2 separate regions of the Homo sapiens genome follow, and region 2 is linked to region 1. The links come from fine-mapping of genetic effects on gene expression. A gene starts in region 1. The other region holds a variant in brackets. All regions are shown on one strand. Distances are from middle to middle.

Region 1 (15,522 bases):
TGCAATATTGTGTAATCTTTTAAAATGCCAATAAGAATTATATCTGATAAAAATACACACATTTTATAACATAAAACCGTTATCAACTTTTATATCTTACAGCTTAGATTTTCATCACTAGCTAATTTCCTTTTAACACTAAATAAAAGTTCCAAAATCAGTACATAAACTCGTAATTTAACCTATTTTAGAAAACAAAAAACATTTCTGTGTGAAGGGAATTACAGAAATGTCAACTGAGCACTCAGTGGTTGAAATGTCCAAGTTTTGTGGAGGTTTCAGGTTAAAAGCAAAGAGAACCACAAGCTGTTTCTCATCTCTGAGTGATCTGTGCTTTCTCATCACATACCTGGAGTAAGAGATTGGTTCTGAAGGAAAAAGCCGGGCTGCTGGGGCTGGCCCACGAGGTTGTAACCCCACAAGGTGGACTGTGGATGGTGCATCATTTGGGAGGAGATAGGCGAGTAATTAGGAGGCACTCGGTATATGTTGCTCTGTGGATATTCCTTCAACATAAAGTTTTTTAAAAAGTTACGTAACTCCACATATCACACAGCTAATTAATGCAAATAACTTCAGTAAGCTATCTGAGGTACCTCCTATCCCAATGTACAAAGCTGTTTTTTATAAAGGAGAAGATGGAAGGAAGAGTGCTAATAAATCCCCTGGAAATATTCATTTGAGGTAAACTTTTCCTTGACTTAAACAGTGCTTGGCTTGCAGTGGGCAGAGATGGAAAAGGATCTCTTCTGAATTCTATTTCAAAAGACTACAAGTGTGTCAGGAATACCAATACTGAACGACACTCATCACTGAAAAAGCACCTTCAGTTGCTAAGACTCATGATCATTTCATCTTAGAAGGCCTTTCCAATATCTTGGGTCTGGAGAATTACGCCAGAGAGCCCTACAGTGCTTCAGAACCACTCTTTGGCCAAGATGGTATTTCACTTGCAATTTTCCAGACATCGTTCTAAAGAAGTAGACACTCCCCTCATCCCCCATGCTTCCTCTTCCTTATAGTAGCTGCAAAGCCTGTAAGGATCACACCTGAAGGTCTCAATTTCCCTACCTTCCCTCATCTAGTCTAGCCCTAGAGGATGGAAGAGAAACAAAATCTCATTTCCCTGCAATTTTACTGAAGAGCATATCTCATTGAAAAGAGGGAGCTTCAGGAAGAATAGAGGAAGAGGGGACATGACCAGACTGACCTGGGGAGCAGGATTGGTTTCAGGGCTTTTTCATCAGAAAAGAACAAAAGCCCATCCACGTGGACTGACAGGCTGGAAACCCCAAATTTGAGGGAGTGTCAGTCTGGACCATTTTAAACTTCCCTTCAAGACAAAGGAATACTGGTAGGAAGACTGAATGAGAAGGGGGCACTGATGCTCAAGTGGCATCCTAAAGTGGTGGTGGTCATTTCTAAAATAGTATTAATCACCAAGCTATCAGCTAGGAAAAGATGTATTTTAGTTCTCACATAGGTAAACAATAACCAATCATGAATATCTGAATGAAATGGTGAATATTTCTTCCACTGTGCAGCAAGAATGCTGTGGAATTTCATTAAAAATGTCTCAAATCCTCTATCAAATATTTTCCAGGTTTTAATTTAATTTAAATAGAAAAACATTTTATGCATTACTTCTCAAGGTTTATAAAATTATTTCTAAATCACCATCAAATAGATTTCTGTTGTAATGAAAAGATTATTATACGTGGGGAACACTAATAGAGAAACAAGAAGTAAAACTATTTTAAATTAGGCTTATTTTCATCTTTTATAAAGTCTGAAAACATGGTAAAGAAGGAAAATATATGAGGGTAAGATGGAATAGTAAAACATAAAATCTCAGGAACATCCTATTGGCTATGCTAACTCCAAGTTTTATCAAAGAAAAACCAAATAGAGCTTTTTATGTTAATTTACTGAAGATATCAACCACTTAAAATACAATAAATATTTTAGACATATTAAAAATATGTGAGAGAATGGGATTGTATAGTTCTAAAAATTTCAAGTTTCAAACCCGAGGAAATTAGGAGGCACTGAAATATTAATTAAATATTACAATGGAAGCCTACAATTAAAATAAAATTATTAAAAGTGGAGGACGGAAAATCAAAAGCTTTAATCTTTTGTCTGTGACAAGTCATTGTGTGCCATTCAGTTAATGCAGAAACCTGTTAGGAGAACTGTCATAACAAAACTTATCCTGCTCTTGGTAATGTTTCGAGGGATATGATTTGGGCACGAGTAAATCTCATACTAAATGCTAATGAGCCAAGGTTCTCCTTCCTTTCCCCACTTACATCAACTCTTGAGCTAGATTTCGTCTTGCGCTTCCTTCCTTTTGTTTTCTTTTCTTCATCTGTTGTGGTTTTTCCCTGATCTGACAGCTCAGCGGACTTCCTTTCTGGTTCCTGAGAAACTGGAGATGTGGGCTCTTCCTCTTCCTCCTCAGGAGGCAGGGGCAGTGGCTGGAGGTAGTAACTGCGGGGCTTGGGCATGGGGTGTGTGTGATACAGCAGGAGGTGATGCTGCTCCTCGTACTTGATCACTCTTCGGTCCACTCGGACTGTCCCAAACCAGGCCCAGGACAAAGGAGCTGGGTTCTTCTGACCCTCAAACAAGTCCCACGGGGACACCTTCTGCTTCGTAGAGACCTGGAGACCCTGTGGGAAAATAGCGCTCTAAGATAGCACACTCAGATCTTTTCCTTATTCATAGGCCAGGCTTGTATGGGACATGGAGTCAGAGAACACTTTGGCTGGCATGAGCCCTAGAGAACCCGAGAATACAGCAGAGAGGGTTACACAGCTACATCACCGGAGAGCAGTGGCTAGAATTCAGACCTTTGTAAGCCCGGTTCTACAGTTCTTTAACCACATGATGCTCTGTTTAGGCAACAGAGGCAGTCTAGCATATTTTATTGTTAATGTGTATTTCCTCTTTTTGCTAAAAAAATTCTAAAAATTTGTTGCTAAAAATTCTAACACTGCAAAGTTAATCTTACTAAATTATAACCAGTTCTAAATCTCTGTAATCTATTTATAATTTTGAAGATAATATCAAATTTAAGAGTCAAGTTATAGTCAACCTGTAATTGGGTTAGTATTAACTTCAATCCAAATCTGCATGAACTTGGTTCAATATGTGGGCCCTGTACTTAATAAGCCATACTCTGAATATAATATTATTATTAGAGAATTAAATTGTAGCAGCAGGAATAAGTAAAGTCTTTCAACTCAAGCTTATATTTACTGACTCTAGAAAAAAAAAAACGGTTACCCTCTTTTTATTCTTAACATTAATTGGTGACATCTCTTGGCACTTGCCTTAAAATGTCAATTTAAAAATATTTTTCCTTAAATGGCCCCCAAATAACTACTCAGTCATTCCCTAAGATGTAAGTGTTACTGTTGTTATCTATATGCATTCTTTTATGAGTAGCTTCATCTAAAACTAAGGTTCAGGCCAGGCACAGTGGCTCGTGTCTGTAATCCCAACACTTGGTGAGGCTGAGGCGGGTGGGATCACCTGAGGTAAGGACTTTGAGACCAGCCTGGCCAACATGGTGAAACCCCGTCTCTACTAAGAATACAAAAAAAGGCTAGGTGTGGTGGCTCACACCTGTAATCTCAGCAATTTGGGAGGCTGAGGCAGGTGGATCACGAGGTCAGGAGTTCAAGACCAGCCTGGCCAAGATGGTGAAACTCCGTCTCCACTAAAAATACAAAAATTAGCCAGGCATGATGGCAGGCACCTGTAATCTCAGCTACTCAGGAGGCTGAGGCAGAGAATTGCTTGAACCCGGGAGGTGGAGGTTGCAGTGAGCCGAGATCACGCCACTGCACTCCAGCCTGGGTGACAGAGCAAGACTCTGTCTTGAAAAAAAAAAAAAAACAAAGACAAAAACAAAAAAAAATTAGCTGGGCCTGGTGGTGCATGTCTGTAATCCCAGGTACTCAGGAGGCTGAGACAGGAGAATCGTTTGAACCCGAGAGACAGAGGTTGCAGTGAGCAAAGATCGCACTACTGCACTCCAGCCTGGGCGACAGAGCGAGATTCCATCTCAAAAAATATAAATAAACAAAGTAAAACAAAATAAAACCAAGGTTCAATTGCCACCTGTAAATTGACTGTTTCCTAATATTTGTCTTGAGATGAGAACTTTTTCCTTGGTGTAAAAACCACACATCCAAATGGATTCCAGATGTCTTACTACCAGGAAGTCCGCTGACACTGCAAACTCAAACTTGACCATGACTTTAGCTTTTTTTCTTTACACAAACTGGTATTAGATTCTCAGGCTACTCTAAATTCCCTGGTAAATCTGATTCTTTCATGTCTTCATATAAACTCTCCCTTTATTTGTACCACAATTTTCCCTACCTCCCAGCTAACTCTTAATCCTTCAAAATGACTCGTGTCAATTTTCCTGGGGACCCTCTATTCTATCCCCTAATACTCTCTCTGTACCATGTCACACAAATCTCATTACACTGTAATTGTCTGTCTACTTCCCCCTTGAGGGTAGGAACTCTGTCTTTCATCTTGGTGATTGTGGAATGTCGGTGGTTGCTTACTGTTCATTAAAAGAGTAACTGACCAATTTTCTCATATTTTAGAGAACCATCTTTAATATCTTATATAAAACAAATGTCCATTAAATACTGCTTGATAGGAATAGAGAATATCCTAACAATTAAAATAATTTTTATTTGAAATAGCTTACTACAGGAAGGTTTTTTTTTTTTTTTCCCCCCCCAGAGACAGGGTCTCACTTTGTTGCCCAGGCTAGGGTGTAGTGGCTATTCACAGGCATGAGCCTAGCACATTGCAGCCTTAAACTCCTGGCTTCAAGCAATCCTCCTGCCTCAGCCTCCCAAGTAGCTGGAACTAAAGACATGTGCCACCATGCTCAGCTTACAAGAAATTTTTCATTGATAAATATATTCTGCTTCTAAATCTGAAGTATAATCAGAACTTATTTATGCAATTTTTTTTTTACACTAAGCTTTTACTTAGTTTTCTCTTGGTAGGTTTCCAAAAATTTACTTAAATTCAGGGAAACATTTTAAGTCCTTTAAACATATAAAACGTAGATCTTCAAAGATATGACCTCTTTATATGATAATGCCAATGACTAAGTACACTTAGAAGACAAGCATATGCCTTAAAAACATCAACAGCAAAATTAATATATTTTATATATCCTATGGTAAGACAAAAAAAAGTATTTCATCTTTTGTAAATAAATTTATATATAAGAAAAAACATTCACTCTTGCCTGTTTTTTATCTATAGAGTCAAATCCAGCAATTTTGTTTCCTTTTGTGTCAATCAAGGAACCCATAGGTTCACAAGTGATGACATCACATGTCTGTTTCGGCAAAGGTAGTAACTGTCGAACTTTGTCAATACTTTCTGATCGCTTGTCTCCTAGCTCTTTCTAAAGAAAAAAGAGAGAGAGAGAGAGTGAGAAGTGGGACAGAAATTACAATGAAGGCAAAAGTTAACCAGAAGGAAGTTCCCCTATGAAACATTTCCCTTTTTATAGCTTAGCGCATGTTCTTTAACCCTGAACATGTTCTACAAGGCAGTTCCAAATAGAGCAATGAGTGTTTCATTTCTTCTATTTAAGTAGAAAATAGAACACATACAAAGGCACTGTTGTTACACAACAAACATCATAGTGCTGAAATGACAAAAATCCAGGGTAGTGATCACAATCAGAAGACAGGAGCTGCAGAACAGAACACTTTCTCATGTCCAGGGTCAGATTACAAGGTAACCATTGATTTATTTGATTGGTAATGCATCAGATTTATTTGGTTTCTTTTTTGCACTGTTTTCTTACAATTTTTTTTTAAAGGAGTCTGTTAGTGGTCGGTCAAATGAATCGATTTATAAATTTCAATGCAGATGGCTATTTTTTCAATTACACGTGCCAGTCCAAGCATAGAGTTATCCTAAATCTATCTAATGTTAGTATTCTGGTTATATATTTAACAGTGGATTTCTAAAGTTCTTTAAAAAATTAAACATGTTTTATAATGTAATTGTTTTCAATAAAAAATAATCAAGGTTATGTGCATGTAACTTCTGGGTACTAATAAGGTTAGGTGAAACAAATAGCAAATAATCACATTAAATTAAGTTGAATACAATTAATAACATTTAATGAGTAATAAATTAAAATGCACTAGATAATAAATCCATAAACAACTTGAGCTCATAATACAGGCTGATCTCAAACTTACTTTCAGTTTCTTTACTAAATTCATGTATGCACGCTTGTTCTCTTCAGATCCCCCAGGGGATGCATTTGATAGGTCAGAGGCTAACGTTCCATTGATTAAAACACCCAGCATGTCAAGAACTGTTGTGAATAATTCACTAAGAAAGAAAATAATTATTTTCATCTTAAAGTGAAACTGAAATACACTTATTTAACTGAGTATTTTTATTCAAGGCACAGAATTTTTAATAGCATCCAAGTAAATAAGATGTGGCAGAAATCGCCATCAGTATATCAAAGCTTATACCATGCATACATGTAGCAAAATCAATGTGAAGTGATAAAAACATACTTGTTAGTGTGCATGTCAACAGTTCCTGAAGTAATGATCTGAAGGAGTAGCAGGGCCCAGTCTGTAGTCCACTGGGTGCTCCTCTGCACCGTGTCAAACATTCCTCCTACCTAGCAGACAAAATACAGTAAGATATTTGCATTCTGTAAAACAGAAAGAACACCCCATTGCTTTATGTTATCAAATTTTGATTGTTTTTTATTTAAAAAAACAAGGGATGCTCTAGTTTATAGATTACCTTATCTTTTCTCTTTTACCTACATGTTTATCACTATTTTTAGTTCTTTCAGCACAGTTCAGTCATTCAAACATTAACTAAAATGAAGAAGGGACGTGAGTATCTGAATGTGGGCACCAATAAACTTAGCTTTCTTTTGTTCCAAATCTTTTATGATGTCCAGTTTTATGATGCAATTATAGTTGAATTAAACCTGAATAATGTCAAAGTCATGTAATCCAATTATCTGCATCTTTGTGTTTGCTGTACAATTACTATTGAATCTAAGCCTGCTATCATAATACCATATGGAAACATCCACTATCACAGCAGTGGTGGGCAGGAGGCTTGGCCCGCACACCTACCAGTTCACGTGTTGGGACAAGGTTAGAAACAACTGCAAAAGTATCAGGCAGGCCATCCTCCAGAGGGGCCTGCACTTGGGCCTGCCTGATGGGAAAAGAAAACTCAAGGAATGCACAATATGTGAGACATTTTAAATTTCTATAAAACTTCTCTGTGGGATTTGTCTTTATAATCAATTTGATGGAAAGTTGGACAAAACTTTGAGTTAAAAGACTTTTTAAATGGTTTTAAGTAAGTATAGTAGAAGCTAACACTTATAACAGTCTTCTCAGATTTATTCTTAGCACAAACTGAAGAGAAGGAGAGATTCACTGGGGTAGAGGTAGAGAAGGCAAATCTATGCTTAAAATACCTAGCACTGTCTAGATGTCTGACCAGACAGGAAGGAAAGCAGCAAGGGAAACAGAAGGCTTTAGAAACAGGGAAGTAATTACAGAGAGCAAAGAGTGGAAGGCCTCACCTTGTAATGCAGACTTTGCACTTAGGAGAAGTGGAAAGCTGGAGGTATTTTCACATGTAAATATGTTTAATGGAGGGAAAATACTAGAAATGTCACTTACCAAATTTAGGCGGAGTTGCAATGCTTCGTGCATCATCTGCCGCGCTTTTATGTCATCTTGGTATCGTTCTTCTCTCCAGTTACTTAAAATCTAAGATCCGGAAAAAAACTCCCCATTAAAGTTTAATTTTTCTCTCATTTAAAGATAAATTGAGCTTTATACTGATAGCAAAAAACCACTTCTTATCTTTAACAAATTAACAAACAAAGCTAAATAAAATTTTAGCTTTCTTCTTCCTCCATGCAGAAAGAAATCTGGCTATTTATTTGTGCATTTGCCGTTCTAGGTGGAGGAAGAAAATCTTATATAATTATATAGCTAGCCTATGATTAAGTCTGGGAAAATGCTTGAGAGGGCCATCAAATTAAGCATTAATAAAAACTTTTAAAATACATTACCTCATTGATCTTACGAAGAAAAACACTGGAGAGAGAGAATTACATTTTGCCTCAGTCCTGTTATATTTCTAGGGACTTGCTGAACCCTAGCAAATGTATTATTTTGATGTTTTATAGAAGAGAAGGTCTGCTATCTTATGTATGTGTCTTCCTTGATAAAGAGAACGCACGGTACTTTGAAAAATATGGCATTGCAGACATCAGCCAAGTGGCTTTATCAGTTTATAAAGTGGGCTGCTTCTTCACTTCCTCACTGACTCACACTAATGCTGGAAAAGGAAAAATTTGCTTAGGAAAGGGAGCCACAAGTGGGCAACACCCTAAAATCAGATGAGATGAGCAAAAAAAAAGTGCAATTCAAAACAAAAACAAAAAACCACTAACAAAAACCCTATCATGCTCTGAAATATGGTCATTAATGAGAGTCATCTTAAAAGAGTTCAAATGAGTCACATGCAGAAGTACTCCATCCCAACAGATGACCTGTAAGTACCCTGCAAGGTGAGAGGAAAGCACTTCCCAAATCTCATCAGAAGAAATGAACCCCTCCCTAAGGCTGGCTTAAGGGGGCAAGGTAGTTAACTAAACAACAAGCTCTCATGGAGCTCAAATAATAGTAGTGGGACAAATAAAACTAAGTGTAACAAGTGGTTTGAGGCATGGCAATGGCATACAGAATGGCTGTGGTCCTATTTTTAGAGGTGATCAAAGGCCTCCCGAAGGAGGTAACATCTTAACAGAGAACTGAATGAAGGGAGCAGGCCATGCTAATCTCTGGAAGGGAATCTTTCCACCTAAAGGGAAGAAAAGATGCACAGGCACTGAAATGAGAATTTGCTCAGCAAGTTCAAGAACAGTAACATGGCCAGTGCAACAACCATGGAGGAAAGAGGGCCATGACTGGTAGGAGACAAGGTAGGAGAGAGAGCCAGTGTCAAATCATGTCTGGCCTTATCAGCCCGAATTTTTTATACTAGGTATACTGAGGTAATATGTGACTTCCATTTAAAAAGGTTCACTATGATTGCTATATCTAGATCTCTCCTACCCAAAAGGTGAGAAATGACAAGAGGATCAAATAAGATTAAGTGTCCTTGTCCATGTCCATCTAGTACCATTCGAGGGAAAGACATGGTGTCATAGAAACACAGTGCCACAAGAAGGGGTCAATTAGGCTGTGTATCAGGATAAAACACCTCATAAGACCAATCTATCCACTTTGCTTAATTCCATGCTCTCCAATTTCTGTTGTGAATGCTCAGTTTCCTTATAGTACATAGATGCAAGAGCCTCAAACAGTGACCAGGAGAACTGTGTTTGGTGAAAAGGCAATGTCCAAATTATTTCTAAATAAACCAACATGCCTTCTGATTTATTTCTTGTGTACTTGGTTGGCATCAATACAACTGAGTTTCTGAACCTACAGATTTCAAGCTGAAAGCGTGCCTGATAATGTGGCATCCAAGCTTGAGGAGCTGGACTCACTGCCATGCCTACTGCAGCATAGATTGCTCCAGGTCCTCTCCTATGAGGCAGAGTTAGGAGACGGGCAGATAGTTCAAAGTTATATGCAATATATAAAATTTTACTTTTATAGGCAGTACACATTTATTGTATATATCTCATTAATATAAAGTTGTTAATCTTGTGGTGTCTACAATGCCAGGTAGAAGAATAAGGCATGGATTGTTTCTCAGCGTCTACTCAAAACATTTTGTAACCTTACTAGTTGTTTTTTTTTTTTTTTTTTGAGACAGAGTTTCACTATTGTTTCCCAGGCTGGTGTGCAATGGCGCGATCTCAGCTCACTGCAGCCTCTGCCTCCCAGGTTCAAGCAATTCTCCTGCCTTGGCCTCCCGAGTAGCTGGGATCATAGGCGCACACCATCATGCCCGGCTAATTTTTGTATTTTTAGTACAGACGGGGTTTCACCATGTTGGCCAGGCTGGTCTCGAACTCCTGGCCTCAGGTGATCCACCAGCCTCCGCCTCCCAAAGTGCTGGGATTACAGGCATGAGCCACCACACCTGGCCCTTATTAATTTAATCTCAGTATTTGAAAGGCAAATAAATGAATGCCGTTAGAAAGATATTTGCCTGTCTTAATATTATACTATACTTTACCTGGTTAACTTGATTCTGGAGAGATGTTAGGAGGCCTTCCCTTTGTTCATCTTGTCCCTTAAGGCAGGTAAGTACCAGTGAGAGGAAGGGTTGTTGACTCAAAAGAGACATACTACAAAGGAAGTAATAATAACAACAGATCTAGTTAGAAATAATGCATTACTTCCTCTGGCAACATTCATTTCTTTGCCTCACTATTAGATAAATAAGAGAGGTGGTAAATAGCCAAAGACTGCTTGAAAATTTAAATCATACCTCTACTTATAAAATTAAAAGCCACTGTAATGCTTCTAAATCACTTCGTATGCTCTAATTGCCCTCGAAGCCATTCTCAAACTAGCATCAAACCATACTGCATGTGAGCATGCCGGGCAGTGAGGGTAGAAGACAGTGAATTCATCTTCTACATCAATATGCAGAATTTAAAAATGTACATCAGAAAGAATATCAATTTATACACAGGATAAAATTAAAAATTTTTAAAGTTCTCATATAAAACTCTTGTTTTAGAGTCTGGGAAAACAGGCCTATATATATGTCTGTTGAGCTTGTTTTGGGGTTTGATTTTGTTTTTCAGCACATTTCCCAAGACCAAAAAGCAGGGTGTTAGTAGAGCTAATTCATCAGCCAGGGCTGAGGACTCCAAAAACAGTGTACTTGCTGGCGACCCCTAGTGTGCAGCTCCAACACAGCCCACAGGCTCCAACATAGCCCGCAGCATCCACTGGTAAAGAGGTGTCAAGGCATTTGGTTAAAAATTCTGTTTTAAATTGGCATTTTAACAAAATGTCTTCAATTAGAGAATAATCAACAAATCATATTGACAAACAAAGCGCCATGTTGGAAAGACAAATTTCTTAAAATGAGACCTAGGCCAAAATATTTCAATCAGCATTATTCTCCATGGGCAGAATAAAGAGCCCCTGATGTGGGAAGAGCGATCTTTCAAGTCTCTTCAATACCATCTGTCCTGCCTATGGGAAGTTAGGCAATGCACATACACTCACCTATCAGCAAATATGATTTGAAAATTAGAATTATGCTTCCTTGTTGGTTAATTAATCCTGGCCAACATGGTAAAACAACCAGATGTAAAACAAATACAGTACATACAATGCTGGGTCTCTACCAAAATGTACTGTAGTTAAGAGCACAAGCTCAGAAGCCAGACCTCCTGGATTTAAACCCAGGCTTTATGTCCTTCACTGTGTGTCCTGGAGCAACTCATGTAACCTTTAAGTGTCTGTTTCAACATGATATAAAGAAGATAATGAGAGTACCTACCACATGATTGCTATAAGAATTTTAAAAGCTCATGTACATAATGAGTTTTAGAGAGGAGTTGCCATTCTGTAAGCAGTCAATAAATGGTGGCTACTATAGTATTATTCATTAGTGGACAAGAAATCTATGTGCTTAAAATATTTTTTTAATGGAAGAAATTATCAATTTTTTTCCTTTACTCCTAGGTTTCTTGGCATTTTCACATTAGGGTGAGGTTTCTTTCTTTCTCAGTAACACGGTTTTCAAATATAATTACTTGAAACCTTTTCTTGGGCATAAAATAAATTAAGAAAACATTAGTTGTGGTGGCCGAGGAGTCTTAATGTCTAGTCTAGAACAGGAGCCCTAAATGTTAAAAATATGAGCAACTAGTTCAGACACCAACATGCCAGAATTATACATTATATTTATTTTAAACATAAATATCTAAATAATAAAAAAATAGAAATAATTAAAAATAAAATACAGGGATCAGGTAGCTATCCAGATCTGATTCAGTTGGTCTAAAGCGGGTCTCGGAAATCACTGTTTTTAACAGTTCAGCAGTGATTTGGATATAAAGGCAGAATTGAGAACTAATGTATTAAGGATTATAACCTGAAATTTTTTAGGAATAAGACAGCCTTGCCTAATAGAATATTCCCAGTTCCATTTAAAAACTAAATTTCAGTGGACTGTGGGTACAGTGACCACACAGGTTTACAGGAAGTGAGACTTTCTCAATTATTCTTTAAACTCTCACACAGACGCCCATCTTCCAGCCACACCTTTTCTGTTTCTGTCTGTCCCTTTCCTTTTTGGAAGAAGAACCCAAGTGCTGTCCCTTCTCCAGCTCTTCCCCAGCGGCTTTCAGCACTCTTCCTTGCACAGAAGTTGGCAACCTGGCGATGAGGGGGGCCACCAACCATACACCCCTGCGTTCGGAGGAACTAAAATCAGAAACAGGTGTTACACCGGAGAAAGCATCCTTTCCCCTGCTCTCACAGTTATAACAGAAACTCCAAAGCGAAACTTTGATGTATGAGACACACAGACTGTTCTAAAATTTCCCTTTTATTTCTGTATTATCTTTCCTTTTTCCGAACACTAGACATTTGCATGAGCTTTCCACCTAAGCCTACAGAAAGCAATAAAACATGCAGTTCTGGAAGGATATTGTAACTAAACTGACTTTAATGTTTTCCGATGACCCCCTCTCTCTAATTAAAAACAATCACTTTGTCCAACAAACAATATACTTTTCTGTCACAGTTACAATATGAAATATTATATGTAAGCATACTAATAGCTAATTTTTAAGGTTTAAAATTCGCTAGTTATACTTTATACCAAAATGATGAAATACAAATCAGCCTTTCATGATTAAATAATTACTTTAAGACTTTATATGCCTACTGGTTCTAATTCTGCACAAAAATTACCAGGATATATTTGTGCAAAATAATTAATTAATAAAAATGGTGGAAAAAGCGTTTCCCATATAATGAATACTACGTAACACAGTAGACTAAGGGACACTGAAAGCATGAACCAAACCTGAGTTCACCTGCAGTTTCAAGGTGTTTAAGCCTACTCAATCAAATATTCCGAAGCTATCATTCACCCCAGCTTTACTCATTAACTTATTAATAATAATCCCTGCTTACAAGTAACTATGTTCTTCACATTCCTATGACTTAAAGAAAAATCACTGTGCTACACAAAATTTACCGTTACTTGTGAAAAATTCATGACAGTTCAATAAAACAACAGACAAAAATACCTTAGGAATGTCTTTATTCCATTCTGTCTCGTGCTACTTGTATCAGCACTTCCAATACTGTTTGGGTTGAAGAGGCTCATGCCAGAATTAGAAGAATTATTTAGGTCTGCAGACTGCTGGAATACCTCTATTGTTGCCTTTGCAATATTGTCCAGTAAGTTGTTCATTTCGGCCACAGAACCAGAGCCCTAGAGTTAGATATAAGAATACTGGCACATATGTGTATTCCTTTATCCTCAAACATCAACGTGTTTTTGCTTTTTATAAAATTTCATACAGAGATAAGCTTTCAATATAAACTCACAGGGTCCTTCAAGCACTGTTTGATCATTAGCTGGAGTTCTAACCAGGATTGCCTCAGTGTCCACTGCTCAAGATTCTGGGAAAAATGGAAAGAATTAAAACATTATGGGTATCAAATGTGTTAAAATACAGTAATTTCTTACAGTACTCCTTCTCTCAAGAAAGAGCAGAATAATCATACACAATGAAATAATTTATATGAGTCAAAAGGTTCCCAATCTTGCTGCATATATATTCAGTAGCGATACAAACCAATAAACAGAAACATTAATTATTAATTAGTTAATACTGTGCCTGACTCAGCTATGCACTGAAACTAAATAAGCATTTCTCCTTTCAAAATCTATTTAACCAATCCCAATCCAAAATGATTTCAATATTTCTTTAATAATATATTTAACATAGCCCCTCTCTGAAGCATATTTCTCATGTAAATACAATACTGATTTAAAATATCAATATTTGTTTGATGATCATATACAATTTGCAGCATGTACATCCACCCAAAAATAAAGTATGTCAATTCCACAGAAAATGTGTGGGAATAAAAATCAGAATTGAAATCACAAATTAGCAAGGACAAAAAAAGAGAGGAAGTAACTCTTTTTATTATTACGAAGAATTTATCAAATGACAGAAACACAATCTGTATACGACTGACCTGAAGAATACGCTTAATGTGCTGTCTTTGCAGATTGTCCCCCTCGGTACATTCTTTAATGCCATGAGGATAACAGATAAGCTGCAGTAATTTCTGTGCTTGCATATTTGAAAGCACAGGGTCCAATATAAGTTCTTTGTCTGTACATAATCTTTCAGGTTCTTTTAAGCAATGCTCTCCTACCCATTCCTAAAAATAATATGGCAATTAGATTGACAGGCACTGGCTTTCGGTATATATATATGCAATATGTACTAAATCCACAGTGCATAATTGAATAGAAAACTGATAGGAATTTTCCAATTTAAAAAATTACATTAAAAAGTAGGTAGAAAAATTTTAAAAAACAAAATTTTTAGCATTTTGGCTTCTAAAAAATACAAAGTAGAACTTGCTTAAAAACATTTTTTAATGGGAAAAAAGAAAAGACAATAAAGAGAATATTAGTATGTTTTTAACTGGAAAGTAAGGTCTTGCTCTAGGCACTATTTTGTGTCAGTTTTTTCTAACTTGCTATATAATGATTCTATCAGATATACGTTCTTCATAATTTTTATGGAATACATTGTACTATCTCACTGACTAGATACAACATAGTATAACAAATATTTAGAAAACGATCTTCCTTTTTGATACTATTATGAATAATGTTATCATTATAAATGAGTAGTAGTGCACATCTCTTTTTTATACAATAATTTTCTTAGGGTAATTTCATAGAAGTGCAATTGCTGGGTCCAGTGTGAGTGGGGGGCTATAGATGCATGGGGTTAATGACCCTCTGAAGAGTTTCTACCAATTTAAACTCCTATTGCCTTTTCTTTACCATTTTTTTCAAAGGCAAATTATTATACTAAATAAAGTAAGAAATCATCAACAGTAACAGAGCCCAATTTGAACCCAGATCTATTTCGGGTGAAGTCTGTTTTTTAACCACCATACCAGTGGCTCAATGCTGGTTGCCCACTAAAATTACCTGGGATCTTTATAAAATTCCATGCCCAGGGCCCACATCAGACTAATTAAGTCAAACTCAGGTGGTGGCACCCAAATATCAGTAATTTTTTAGGCATCCAAATTGTTTTAAATGCCCCAGCTGATTCCAATATGCACTCACAGTTGGGAACCAACACACAATTGCCTCTCAATACTTATATGACTATGTAGCTATCTTTTACCATAGTTATAACATGCCTGTAAAAATACAAAAACATGACCCAGTCGGTATGACACCTATAGCAAAGTACAAAAT
Region 2 (15,522 bases), 230 kb before region 1:
AATATAAGCTCTCAGTCACTTGGGGAATTTTCTGGGAGAGAAGGAAATTAGTTTCAAATGGTTTGGTAATCATCTGAAAGGCGTATCTGTCAAAGTGAATCAGCCTGAAGGTTTAGAGAAACATTTATGTTGTTGCTGCTTTGTTCAACTGAACAGAACCCTCTGAAGAAATCTGAAGAGCTAGCTTCCTCACATTCTCCAAGTCTTTTCTGAAATCACCTTCCCAATGAGGCCTTCCCCACAACCCTTTTTAAAGCTGTTAACTCTCCTCCTAACAATTTTCTACCTTCCTTTCCTATTTGCTTTTCTCCAAAGCACTTATTACCAGGTGACAAACTATATATTCTACTATTTTATTTATATATCGCCTATCTTCTTCAACTAAAATGTAAACTCCATGAAAACAGAAATTGTTTTCCTGCCATATCCCCTTCACCTAAAATAGGCAGATACAGGTGCTCAGAAAATTCTTACTAAACGACCAAGATAATCAATAAATAAATAATCTAAGATAGTACTCTTATTGAAATTAAAGCCATACATTCAGAGCTGCCAAGAAATAATAGTTTTTTCTTTATTTTTATGAGCCAGATTTATTTTCAGCAAAGCTACAGATTTTTAAAGAAAATATGTGTGTGTCTTCAAACCACACACTTGGAAAGCAATAAATGACACTGAATGTTTCAGGAGTGAAAACATGGCTCGTGAAACATATTTTTTCATTAGTATTGTCTCTCAAGCAGTTACAAAAGGTGAATGACTTGAATATTCAAATACATGGCGCTTTCTGCACTGAGGCTAAAGGAAAGAAGCACCAAGCTAAGAACCAAGACGAGTGGGGTTTTGAGTGTGTGTGTGTGTGTGTGTGTGTGTGTGTGTGTGTTACTATTACTAGAGAGCTGTTTCTCTACTTGCATTAAAAAAAAAAAAAGTGTGGCCAGGCGCGGTGGCTCACACCTGTAATACCAGCATCCCAGCACTTTTGGAGGCCAAGGCGGGTGGATCACGAGGTCAGGAGATGGAGACCATCCTGGCTAACACGGTGAAACCCCGTCTCTACTAAAAATACAAAAAATTAGCCGGGCGTGGTGGCGGGCGCCTGTAGTCCCAGCTACTCGGGAGGCTGAGGCAGGAGAATGGCCTGAACCCGGGAGGCGGAGCTTGCAGTGAGCCAAGATCGCGCCACTGCACTCCAGCCTGGTGACAGAGCAAGACTCCGTCTCAAAAAAAAAAAAAAAAAAAAAAGCAACAGCAACAACAAAACGTGTGGGATGGAAAGTGACTCCAAAGTTCTGTGCCTCAGTTTCCCAGGCTATAAAGCCCTTTCACCCTTTCTAAGGAAAGAATATACTGTGACAGTAAAATGGTAAAGTAAAATCAATTTGAAAAATATAAATACAATGTTATTATTGCCAAATATTGATAATATTTATTGACATATATTTACTGATAATAAAGATGTATGCTTTGGCACTATGTTATACTTAACTTTAAATTTAGGAAAATGTTGGACCATATTGAACACAAAATGTTTGCAAATATATCAAAGATAGATATGCTTCCTTGACTGTGCCATAAAGAGAAGATGGGAAAAGGAAATCTTGACTTTCCTATGGTTTGATTTTATGAAAACAAGTTATCTAGTCTACAGATATAAAAAGAACATATTATATGCGCCATTGAAATGAATAGTAAACTTAGGAATTAATTTAAGATTTAGTTGTCTATTAATTTGGCAATAGAGTAATCAAGTTCCACAGATTTTTATGTGAACATTTTGAAATAATAGTAAGATCTACATTTACTTATTTATCTATAATTTCCTAAATAAAAAAATTAAAATTGTAAATTGTAGCATACCTGTGTCATGAAATAGGAGAACTGATAACTCAAATATGTTCACTCAGTCATGCTATGGTGAAAAGTTGAGCCAACTCTTTGGTAGATAAATATTTTGGAATTCCTGTCTTCAGTTAAGTGGCTGGCTCTGAAACACACTCTAAGAAACAACGAAACGAGCTGTGAATTTAGCATTGTGCCTTCCAGTTTGTTTATGCTGCCAGTTAAGTACCATGTATAGTCTTGACCAATGTTTATTCTCTGGGACTCAGTTTCCTTCTCTGTGAAAGGAGGTAATTGAATTAAATTATCACGGGAGCATCACAGAATGTTAGGACTAAAGGAGCTTTGGGGATTGTTTTGTCTAACTCCTTTGTGTTATAGAAGAAACCAATGCTAAAGTGCCTATATCTGTTGGATACGATGATTCTATTACTACTCTTCCAAGTCAGATATCTTACAGTAACATCCCCACATCCCACAAAGGAAATTAAATTGAATTAAGCCTTCTATTCAAAAAGCATAGTAAAGGATATTATCCAAATAAATAAAATGTGTCAGAAGTAAATTTCTAACCTATGACTAGCAATGCTATTTCTAAATATCCCCCTACCCCCAATTTGAAATAGATCTACTCATTCACACAGAGTTAAAACTAGAGTTGTTTCTCTTCCTTAGAGCATGGAGAGACCAGCATAAGGCCTGAACCCATATTGATACATAACTGCTGTAGTTGCTGAAACAGCATTTGGTAAAAGTTAATAATCATTATGGATTAAAATCATTCATAAAATAGCAAAAGATGGACATTTTCTGGTTATTTATAAATACATTTATAACTAAAAGATCTAGCATCAAGCTTAAGAATACAGGTGATACAGATGATAAACAGCTTCTAATTAACTTTAACACTCTAAGACAAAAACAGAAGGGGAGAAAGGCAGTGAAGGAGAAAGGAGGAGAAGAAGAAAGATGGGAAGGAGGAGGGGTGGGGGAAGGATAAGAGAAAGAAAGAAAAGTATGTTACCGAACTTGCAGAAAAAGAAGCAAAATTAACATTATTTTCAAATGATAGGATTGTAGAGATTGAAAAAACAAGACACTCAAGTAAAAGAGACTCAAAGTCAAAACCACTACAAACTATAAGAGATCTGGTATAAACATAAACATGCTTCAATAAAAGCAATAACCATTTTTCAAACATTATATAAGAGATCATATGTAGTATTTCTAGGCAAAGGTAGTATAACTACAGAATAATTAGCAAGAAAGTGAAGAAATGTTTTAGAATGCTTCTGAAAGACAGAAACATACTTGCTCAAAAGGAAAGCCTACCTTGCTCTTGGATAAGATTTATCATTATAAATCACAAACCAGAATCACAAACTGGAAAGAAGGAGAGGAAAGCTCACAGAGTTCTGTTTTATTAATGTAAAAAATAAAGCTTTCCCCAAAATGCCTAGCTGACTTCTCTTCACCCTTGGTAATATGAATGTGATTTGCATACGCATCCATTTCTTTTACACAAAATTACTGAGCATCAATATCAGGCAAGTACTCTTGTTATGAGTTTGGTTATTAATAATAATGTTATTAATAATCTGACCCTGAATGTTGGAAACAATTATAAATTGTAGAGTTGACGAGAAAATACTTGATTGAACTCCTGTGGGAATCACCTAAGTATATTCTGTCCAGTGAAAATCTTTCATAAATAACAGTCATTTGTTAAACTGGTTAAAATAAGTAGTCCAGATCACAATATTTTTTCTCCTACTCTTCTCAGTTATCATTTACCAATCAAAGTATTTTTTCCACATTCTGTAGACACAGATCTAAGTGACATGAGGTATATAAAAAGACATTTTATATACACAAGATCCTTTCGGTTTAATTAGAGAAATAAGACCTACATTCTGAAAAGAAAACATAACATAAGCAAGAGTGAAATATTCCTAAGTAATACTTATAGATTTTTTAAATTGTAGTTCTGATTAGCTAGCAGTTTCCCAAACGTTCACACTTGTTTTTTTTTAATTTACAATTCCATTCTGTTCTCTCCTTCCCTTTCTCCTTATTCTTTGAAACTCAGATCAAGGGTTAGCTTCTGTATAAAATCTTGTCCAACCACCCCATATCCTAATAGAATTCACTATTTCCTCCTTGTGCTTTATGTACCCTCTGCATAATATTTCAACAGCATCTTACAAATTCTTGCGCGTATTTCTTTGCATGCTTGTCTTATCCAAGATCATGCTCATTCAACTTTTTGTACCTGTCACCTGGCACAATGCTGCAAACATAAGAGATCAATTGATTAAGTGAATAAAATGATGGGAGTTTGACTATTAAAAAAGGAAATAGAGTCTGGGCATGGTGGCTTATACCTGTAATCTCAGCACTTTAGGAGGCTAAGGTGGGAGCATCACTTGAGGCCAGGAGTTCAAGACCAGCTTGGGCAACATAAAAATACCCTGTCTTTATTAATAAAATTTTTAAAACAAAATTAAAAGGAGATAGACTATAATGTTTTATGGAACAAAAAAACTAGAGGAGCACAATTGTGTTGTCCTTGGATTCGTTTTGAACTTCTTAAAATAAGAAATGAACCCAATTTACTTTACTGCTCCTGGGATAGAAAGTTCAAGGACCAAAGATATTTTCCTGTTTCTGTGCTACACAAAACTGGAGCTAGGCAAAAGTCACTTAGCTACTTGCTGCAGTAAATACATGCTCTAGAAGATAAAACTATGAAACAACAAAAATAGCTTAGTGTTTAAGACTAATAGCGTATTTCTGGACCCTTTCCTTGCCATGCCCACCAAACCAAAGTTATTATGCTCCAAACCCTGACCAATCCCAAACAGCTCCATCTTGCAAAATCTGCCTTAAAACCACCCAATGCCCTGTATATTTTTCTTCCTGTAACTTCCTTCTTTAGAGAATTTATTGACAATCTCAAACATGTTGATGTTCTCCTTTAGTGTAGTAAGTCTAATTAACTGAGCTTTACTTGATCAATATGTTTATCTAGTGGTCTTTGATGGCATTAAGGGCCAATAGTAGCCTTAAAATGAATTTATATATATATTCCCCAGTTTTGAAGAACAGTTTATCTATAATGGGGAAGCTGATTTTGTGTTATTTACCTTAGATTCTGTTATCCCCCAAAAGGAGGAAGCATGAGCTAATTTATAAAAACACAAAGTATTTTTTATTCACTTTTTAAATGACAGCTAAAGTTATACATTTTTTAACTCACTTCCTCTTTTAACAATATTTCCTCATATTTATAACTTCATTGAATGGCATTACCTAAAAGATAACCACTTATTTTATTTTTAACAGTTTTATTAAAGTATAATTTTGTCTTAGCTTGTTTGCTGCTGCTATAACTGAATGCCAGAGATTGGATAATTTATAAAGAAAAGAAATTTATTTCTTACAGTTCTGGAGGCTGAGAGTTCCAATGTCACATGACTGTCTCTGGAGAATCTTCTGCCAGTGGCGACTCTCTGGAGAGTCCTGAGATGGCACAATGCATCCCATGGTGAGGGAACTTAGAGAGACAGCCAAACTGACTATACAACAGACTCACTCTCATAACTCACCCACTCCTGTTATAACCCATTAACCTATTAACCCATTAACCTATCAACCCATTAATATAGTAATCCATGAATGGATGAATAAATTCATGAGGGCAGAGTCCCAATAACCCAATCACCTCCCAAATATTCCACCTCTCAACCCTGCCGCAGTGGGGATCAAGCCTCTAACAAATAAGCTTTTCCAGGATACATTTAAACCATATCAAATTTACATACCCACTTATTTTTATAGTAATATTTGGGGTTAATCATAAAATGCATATTCATTATTAAAAACTGGAAAAAATACAAACAAATATAAATTCTCAACTGTCTGATAAATCCATCTTAAAATTTTGGTCTATTACCACAAATTTGTTTTTCCACTACATACACACACACACACACACACACACACACACACACA[CACACACAT/T]TAAAAGTAATTGAAATACTATTTCATATGCCATTTTATAATTTGCTTTTTCTCTTGTTATATTATAAAAAATGTTCTGCTTTTATCATAAATACTTCAAAAACTTTACATTCATATTTATGGTGAAGTAATACGATGCTTGAGATTTCCTTCAAAATAATCAAGGTGGAAGCAGGGGGAGGCCAATGGATAAGCGAATAATAAAAATAAGCTAGTGTTTAGTTGATATCTGTTCAAGCTGAATGATGACTACATGTGAGATCTTTATATGTTTATTCTCCATACTTTTGTATGTTTGGTATTTTCTATAAAAAATTTAAAATCTTTATTTTTAGTATTTACATTATATTTTATTTACATATTTACTTCATTTTATGTAACTATTCTATTTATTAATTTTCATTAGAGATTTAGATTATTTATAGTTTCTTACTATTGAAAACACCGTGATAGGGTCTTTGTACATAAATATTTGTATTTCTTTGTATGAGACTTTCAGTGATAGCTGAAAGTTCGGAAAACTTCACATCTCTGTTTATTTATTTACAAAATATATGAAAAAAAGCCTGCTCTTGTACTTGCCTCCTGGCATACATAGTAAAACAGTATAAACATTTTTATTTTTATTTTTTATTTATTTTATTTTTATTTTTAATTTTTTAATTTTTTATTTATTTATTTTTTATTTTTTATTTTTTTTTGAGATGGAGTCTCACTCTGTTGCCCGGGCTGGAGTGCAGTGGTGTGATCTCGATTCACTGTAAGCTCCGCCTCCTGGGTTCACGCCATTCTCCTGCCTCAGCCTCCTGAGTAGCTGGGACTACAGGCACCCACCACCACGCCCGGCTAATTTTTTGTATTTTTAGTAGAGACGGGGTTTCACTGTGTTAGCCAGGATGGTCTTGATCTCCTGACCTCATGATCCACCCGCCTCGGCCTCCCAAAGTGTTGGGATTACAGGCGTGAGCCACCGCGCCCGGCAAACAGTATAGACATTTTAAAACTTCTTTATGTCCATTACTAAATAGTTTCATGGGAAAGTTGTTTCAAAGAAATTTTAAAACATTTTAGCATCTTAATCAGTTTGGGTGGCTGTAACAAATATAACATAGACTGGGTGGTTAAAACAATAGAAATGTATTTCCTAACATTCTGGAGACAGATGTCCAAGAGCAAGGTGCCAGCGCTTCAGTTACTGGTGACGACTCTCTTCCTGGTTTGCTGATGGCCAACATCTTGCTGTATCCTCCCACAGTGAGAGAGAGAGATCATCTCTCTTGTGTCTCTTCTTACAAGGTCACTGATCCCATTAATAAGGGTTTCATTACCTAGTTAACCTAATTAACTCCCAAAGGCCCCACCTCCTCATCACACTGGGGATTAGGTTTAAATCTTTGAATGTGAGGGAACATGAACATTCAGTCTATAACAGACATGTCTATTTATTTTCTGAATTGTTTATACTTGTTCTTGACCATTTATTCGATGCAGGATGCTTCATGATGAGGGGGCTAGAGCATGCTAATCTGGCTTTTATAACATAATCACTCTTGTGATAACTAACCCTCTCCCATGATAACCTATTAATTCATTAACCTATTTATCCATTCATGAGGGCAGAACCCTCATGACCCAATCACTTTTAAAAGGCCCACCTCTTAATACTGTTACACTGGGGATTAAGTTTCAACATAAGTTTCAAAGGAGACAAATATTCACACTATAACACTTTGCTCCTGGCCCCCCAAAACTCATATTCTTCTCCCATACAAGTAGATTCATTCTACCCTCACATCCCCAAAGTCTTAATTCACTTCAGCACCAACTCAAAAGTTCAAAGTCCAGAGTTTCATCTGCATCAGATATGGGTGATACTCAAGTGACAATTCATCTTGAAGTAAATTCTCCTTCGGTTATGAACCTTTGAAATTAAACAAGTTATCTACTTCCAAAAATACAATTGTGAGACAGGAATAGAACAAGCATTCCCATTCCTTCAGGGAGAAATAGCCATCCCCCCAACAAAAAAAAAAGAAGATGAAGAAAGAGAAGAAAAGGGAGAAGAAGGAGAAGGAGGAGGAGGAGGAGGAGGAGGGGGAGGAGGAGGAGGGGAAGAAGAAGAAGAAGAAGAAGAAGAAGAAGAAGAAGAAGAAGAAGAAGAAGAAGAAGAGAAGGAGAAGAAGAGGAGGAGGAAGAAGAAGAAGAGGGGGAAGAAGAGGAGGAGGAGGAGGAAAGAAGGAGGAGGAGGCAGAGGAGGAGGAAGAGAGGGGAGGGGGAGGGGGAGAAGAAGAAGAGGAGAAGAAGAAAGTAGTATCAAGTCCCAAGTAAGTCTAAACCCCAACAGGGAAAACTACTTTAAATCTTACAGCTGGAGAATAATCTCCTTTGACTCCATTTCCAGCATCCTGGGCTCACCAGTGCAGGCATTGGGCCCTAAAGGCTTCAGGCAGCCTTGCCTTCTCACTATGTGATGTCCTGTGCCACCCTGAAACTCTACAGAGGGTCCTTACCTGTAAAAAGGCCCTTACCAGATGCCACCCCTCAACCTTGAACTTCCCAGTCTCCAGAATTGTAAAAAATATTTTTTTTCTTTATAACTTACCCAGTCTCAGATATTCAGTTATAGCAACAGAAAACAGAATAAGACGCATTTCGTAGAGGTTTCTATAGATGATACATAGATGCATGAATGGATAGATGCTCTTTATAAATTAGAATATTAATCAATCAGTTAACTTATTTGTGGAAAGCATTTTTACTCAGCTTGTCAATAATGAATTTAAATATTTTAATGTAGAAAAGGTTTTTGTTTAACTTTTATGTGCCCAAATATATTAGTCTTTTGCATTGATATTCTGCCTTTTCTATGTTTAAAATATCCTTTAAAGGGGCCTAAGTATTTATTTTGGAAGTGTGTGTTTTCTATGAAAGAATTCTCCAAGATACAAAACCACTCTCTCCTTTAAGAGATGTTTTTACTTAATGAATGTCCATAAAAAAGAAAAGGATATAATAACACCATTCTATGTTTTTATATGTTAGATTTTAGTTAATTCTATACATTAAGTTACACTTAATTGGCATTATTTTTGAAGACTGAAATATATGTTGGATGAATGAAACAAAATAGAAAATAAAAGAGTAATAACAAAATAAATATTTAGTGCCAGGCACGGTGGCTCATGCCTGTAATCCCAGGCCTTTGGGAGGCTGAGGCGGGAGGATCACTTCCTGAGGTCGGGAGTTCGAGACCAGCCTGACCAACATGGAGAAACCCTGTCTCTACTAAAAATACAAAATTAGCTGGGTGTGGTGGCGCATGCCTGTAATCCCAGCTACTTGGGAGGCTGAGGCAGGAGAATCACTTGAACCCAGGAGGCGGAGGTTGTGGTGAGCCGAGATCACGCCATTGCACTCCAGCCTGGGCAACAAGAGTGAAACTTAATCTCAAAAAAAAAAAAAAAAACCTCAAAAAACAAAACCAACCAAACAAACAAAAACAAAATAAATATTTGGTAAGTGGATAAATAAACGAATCCCTATAAATTAACATAACTCCAAGTTGTCACAGTTGATAGTTAAATGCTTAACTGAATATTTTGCCATTTTAAGAATTACTGTTAATATTTTTCTATCTTTATCCTAAAAAGGATTCTTCTCGACCTTTGTATGCTATTTTAATCACTCCCTTAAAGCTCTATTTAATCACTCCCTTAAAGCTCATAATTTTTATCTGCCCTTGCTTTTTATAGTTTCCTTTCAGCGCTTCATATTTCCTTCCCTTTGTAGTTTATTTGATCCATAAAGAGCGTACTTAAAATTTTTCCTACTTCCGCACTGTTAGGTTCTCATTAAGCTTATTTCATATGCCCAGCATAATTTGAATGTCTTATTTCCCATTACTGCAAATTTCTTCACATATTCAGAGTTCTCTAATTTATTTTAAGTAAAAGAAGAGTAAAGTAATTAAGACACAGCATACATGGAACAATATAGGAGAAAAGTAGTTCTTTTTAGGTACTAGCTTTTAATATGTAATAAGAGAAATTTAAAATGAAAATTAAGTCTGTATTTATATGGTGAAATAAATATAAAAATTGTTTAAGAAAATTATAAATTAAAAATAGTGATATAGACATTAAAGGTGAAAAAACACACCATCATTTTGGGTAAATTACTTTTCATAGCTATAACTCACAAAAAAACCTTGACATTCAATCTTATAAATGAAGTAGCTTTCAGTTAACATATGCATTTTAATCAAATGTAACATTAGAGGGTAGAACATTGTCTGACCCAAAATAGAGGTTTCATGCATATTTTTTCAAATGTAAATATGTAAACAAAACTTACCAAAAAATGTGGCATTAAAATTTTTCTGACCTTAGCAAATGCTTTTAAACATATTTTAGAAGTTCATAGGCTTTCCAAAGTCATCTATCATTACAAGAATAGCTGTCATTGCTTTTAGTAAAAGTTTCAATTTTCATTGATATCACCATAATTATTACATTACAGGCTTCTTTTTTTTTTTTTTTACTGTTTCTGTTACCTCACTTCCAATTCCTATACTTCACTTTACCTTTTCTTATTTTTTTATTTTATTATTATTACACTTTAAGTTTTAGGGTACATGTGCACAACGTGCAGGTTTGTTACATATATATACATGTGCCATGTTGGTGTGCTGCACCCATTAACTTGTCATTTAGCATTAGGTATGTCGCCTAATGCTATCCCTCCCCCCTCTCCCCACCCCACAACAGTCCCCGGTGTGTGATGTTCCCCTTCCTGTGTCCATGTGTTCTCATTGTTCAATTCCCACCTATGAGTGACAGCATGCGGTGTTTGGTTTTTTGTCCTTGCGATAGTTTGCTGAGAATGATGGTTTCCAGTTTCATCCATGTCCCTACAAAGGACATGAACTCATCATATTTTATGGCTGCATAGTATCCCATGGTATATATGTGCCACATTTTCTTAATCCAGTCTATCGTTGTTGGACATTTAGGTTGGTTCCAAGTCTTTGCTAGTGTGAATAGTGCCGCTATAAACATACGTGTGCATGTGTCTTTATAGCAGCATGATTTATAGTCCTTTGGGTATATACCCAGTAATGGGATGGCTGGGTCAAATGGTATTTCTAGTTCTAGATCCCTGAGGAATCGCCACACTGACTTCCACAGTGATTGAACTAGGTTACAGTCCCACCAACAGTGTAAAAGTGTTCCTATTTCTCCACATCCCCTCCAGCACCTGTTGTTTCCTGACTTTTTAGTGATCGCCATTCTAACTGGTGTGAGATGGTATCTCATTGTGGTTTTGATTTGCATTTATCTGATGGCCAGTGATGATGAGCATTTTTTCATGTGTTTTTTGCCTGCATAAATGTCTTCTTTTGAGAAGTGTCTATTCATATCCTTTGCCCACTTTTTGATGGGGTTGTTTTTTCTTGTAAATTTGTTTGAGTTCATTGTAGATTCTGGATATTAGCCCTTTGTCAGATGAGTAGGTTGCAAAAATTTTCTCCCATTCTGTAGGTTGCCTGTTCATTCTGATGGTAGTTTCTTTTGCTGTGCAGAAGCTCTTTAGTTTAATTAGATCCCATTTGTCAATTTTGGCTTTTGTTGCCATTGCTTTTGGTGTTTTAGACATGAAGTCCTTGCCCATGCCTATGTCCTGAATGGTATTGCCTAAGTTTTCTTCTAGGGTTTTTATGGTTGTAGGTCTAACACTTAAGTCTTTAATCCATCTTGAATTAATTTTTGTATAAGGTGTAAGGAAGGGATCCAGTTTCAGCTTTCTACATATGGCTAGCCAGTTTTCCCAGCACCATTTATTAAATAGGGAATCCTTTCCCCATTGCTTGTTTTTGTCAGGTTTGTCAAAGATCAGATAGTTGTAGATATGTGTCATTATTTCTCAGGGCTCTGTTCTGTTCCATTGGTCTATATCTCTGTTTTGGTACCAGTACCATGCTGTTTTGGTTACTGTAGCCTTGTAGTATAGTTTGAAGTCAGGTAGCGTGATGCCTCCAGCTTTGTTCTTTTGGCTTAGGATTGACTTGGCGATGCGGGCTCTTTTTTTGGTTCCATATGAACTTTAAAGTAGTTTTTTCCAATTCTGTGAAGAAAGTCATTGGTAGCTTGATGGGGATGGCATTGAATCTATAAATTACCTTTGGCAGTATGGCCATTTTCACGATATTGATTCTTCCTACCCATGAGCATGGAATGTTCTTCCATTTGTTCATTGAGCAGTGGTTTATAGTTCTCCTTGAAGAGGTCCTTCACATCCCTTGTAAGTTGGATTCTTAGGTATTTTATTCTCTTTGAAGCAATTATGAATGGGAGTTCACTCATGATTTGGCTCTCTGTTTGTCTGTTATTGGTGTATAAGAATACTTGTGATTTTTGTACATTGATTTTGTATCCTGAGACTTAGCTATTTGAAGAATTGCCACACAGCTTTACACAAAAGTTGAACTAATTTACACTTCTACCAACAGTATAAAAGCAGATGATAGTATCTGACTGTTGTTTTGATTTGCATTTCTCTAATGATCAGTTGTGTTGAGCTTTTTTTCATATGCTTGTTGGCAGAGTGTGTGTCTTCTTTTCAAAAGTATCTGTCCTTTGCCTACAAATTTCTATGTCTTGATGCCAGGTCTTCAACACTCATTGAGAATTTTTGGTCTTTATCTGATAGCTTAAAGTCCAAATTTAAATATAAACTTATTACAGTCTGTATGCCCATATCGCTAATTGTTTTACCTTTGTTCGTATCATATAAGGAAATCACTCTCTTTTAATTGAATTATCAGCTATAAGTTGGCTGCAGATATCTATTACCTGGGAATGGGTTCTTTAGGGAGTGGAGAGCATCTTCTTTTCTACTTCTATACTCTTATTGCTCTATCCCTCTGACTTCTTTGAAGGGAAACAATTATACAGGCCATTCTGACCTTTTGCTATTAAAGAAAACTTGGAGGCTAATCACCACCTGTAAAAGTATTTTCCATGATGCTGAAATTACTGGTTCTGTGGTATGTGTGTGTCACACAATGAGACGTCCTTTATGATTAGAACAGCCTAGGATTGTACTATGAAATCATCTTATTCACACTCTGTGTGAACCACATCCAAGGGGCTTGAATAAGACAGGAAATGTTTTTCAATTCATTTTCAAGAGTTTTCTTGGTGTACTGAGATTTCAGCAAGTTTGGGAAGGAGAAGAAGGAAATGCTATGAGAACTTGACACGAAGTGCAATGCCACATGCAAGAGCAAAAGAAAAGAAACTGCAAGATGGATACTGCCACAAAAGAAACTTGAAACATTCATTTGGGGACAGGGAAAGGGGAAGACCAAAGAGAAAGGAAATAGTCCTATTATCCATTTTGTTGGCTTCTCTATTGCTGGTCAAATTATCTGAGCTCTACAACTTTCCACATGTAATTGATTTTCCTATTTATTGGCAAAATGACTTAAGACTGAAGGTGAGTCAGTGGCTCAACCTAGAAGGAAATTCGTACATAGTTCTTGGTCAACTTGTTAATATTTCTTTTTTAGTTCAGTGCTTAGTATAGTTTCCAAGTAATAAATCTTAATAATTCTTGAAAACGGAAGGAAAGAAGTCAGGTTAAAATACAAGCAGCAAAATAAATATATGATTTAAGCTGCTTTTCTACATACAGCTAAACTTTTAGAAGTAGAGTTTGTTTTTATTGGGCTAACACACATCATGTCAGGAGGTCTTAATAATGCTGGCAAGCAAGAAAGCTGATGGAAAGTTTCTCTGGCTAACAAAAATCCTTTTTTAAGAACACATGGAAGATATCCATTTCAGAGAATTTAGAAATCCATGGGGAAAAAGAAATTCCGAAAGACATTATTTTTGTTCTGGCTCTCGTGTTTTCTCTTTCTCCCCTTTGCCTCTACTTACAGAAAGAAAATCAAGGATTTCTTACTTCATAGGTCAATGAATCAAGATACTGAATCTCTGCACACTCACAACTGTATGCACTGCCCATGTGGCCTCAGGCAAAAGTAGCTGGCCTTCACATTCAAATTGTACAAATAATAAATGGCCATAGATTAGTACTTTAAGATTTGGAAACTGAAAATAAACATTTGGTGAGTTTTCAGTGAAAACATTAAAATATGTTTTCCAGGTGTTATTTTATAGGGATATCATTTATAAGGTGGGATATTATCATTTGTAAGGTTTCTTTGAACATATGTGAATTTTTGCATATGACAAGCTAAATTAGAAAATGTGTATTCTCAGTTGTTTCTTCCCAACTTGATTTATAACAATCCAACAACAATCATTTAATATTTTCTTCTTCCTTTTGAACCAACCTACTATGTGCACTTTACAAAGTTATAGATTAGCTGGACAGCCTAAGGCCTGTCAAACATATACCCAGTCAACTAAACCTTGGTGCTATGGTTTGAATGTATCCTCTAAAATGCATGCTGAAGTTTAATTGTCCTTGTGATGGTATTAAGTGGTGGGACCTTTATGAGGTGATTATTATTAATGCCATTATCTAGAGAGTAGATTAGTTATCTCAGGAGTGGGTCCTATACAAGGATAAGTTTGCTCCCATTTTCTCTGTGTCTCACATGCTCACTCTCCATGTAATGCCTTCTGCCATAGACTGACCCTCAGCAGATGCTGGTGCCATGCTTTTGAACTTCCCAGCCTCCAGAACCATATGCCAAATAAATTTCTACTATTTATAAATTACCCAGTCTGTAGCATTTCATTGCATCAGCAGGAAATGGACAAAGACACTTGGCCTCCTTAGAAATATGCATGTTTTATCTGAATGTAATTAAAACTTATTTGCACACACCTTCATCTGAGTTCTGTCATTTAATAAAACAATTGTTATTACAAAAATGATCATTAAAAAAGAATCTAAGAAAGTCTGACTAGCTATCACACCTATAAACTGCCTCCATATAAAGTTTTTCATTTTGTATCAATTAATTTGCTTTGTCCCATGTGAGCTACAGCTTGATCCATGACTCATTTGAGCTCCAGATCCTAGAGTACTCATTTATTGACTAGACACAAGGAAAACCGGTGGCCTATAAGATGGCATCATGCTCTGTATTGGGAATAGGAAATGTTCTATCAATATTTGAATGACAGATTCACTACTCTGATTCTCTTTCTTAGGAAGTTAGATATCAGATATGTAGCAAGTCCTATCAGTTCCTCTTTCACAATATTTCCTTTACCAATGCTCTCCTTCCACCCAACTGCCACCATCCTATCCAAACTACCATCATCTCTCTATTGGACTGAGACCATAGCCTACTTACCCAGTCTCTCCATCACCACTGTTGCCCTGTCAAAATCCACTTTCCTTATAGCAGCCAGAGTGTTCTTTTATTTTAAAAGATTTTTTAAAGTCATTTCAATTTTTATTTTAGATTCAAGGGGGTACATGTAGAGATTTGTTACATGGGTGTACTGCATGATGCTGAGTTTTGGGATATGATTGATTCCATTACCCAGGTAATGAGCATAGTACCCAATAGACAGTTATCAGCTCCTGCTCCCTCTCTCTCTCCCCACCAGCAGTCCCCAGCATCTACTGTTTCCATCTTTGTGTACATGTATATCCAATGTTTTGCTCCCAC

What was found.
Region 2: its variant is fine-mapped to the expression of P2RY12 in skeletal muscle (FUSION, PIP 0.95).

Annotation. Positions count from the first base shown.
Region 1 is chr3:151,374,963-151,390,484 of GRCh38, reverse strand. It overlaps P2RY12 (purinergic receptor P2Y12), which reads left to right and starts at 5,732. Exons shown (of 3, transcript NM_022788.5): 1 at 5,732-5,793. It overlaps MED12L (mediator complex subunit 12L), which reads right to left. Exons shown (of 45, transcript NM_001393769.1): 28 at 14,271-14,459; 29 at 13,611-13,685; 30 at 13,307-13,494; 31 at 12,312-12,473; 32 at 10,261-10,372; 33 at 7,740-7,829; 34 at 6,597-6,706; 35 at 6,267-6,402; 36 at 5,294-5,455; 37 at 2,313-2,675; 38 at 350-506. RefSeq lists an enhancer at 12,348-12,417.
Region 2 is chr3:151,609,773-151,625,294 of GRCh38, reverse strand. All of the region lies in intron 1 of LINC02066 (long intergenic non-protein coding RNA 2066), which reads right to left. LOC105374157 (a long non-coding RNA gene) reads right to left here and starts at 5,366. Exons shown (of 3, transcript XR_924581.3): 1 at 5,286-5,366; 2 at 1,861-1,999; 3 at 1-31. It also overlaps a transcript of IGSF10 not described here. The variant CACACACAT/T (reference allele first, on the strand shown) is at 5,857.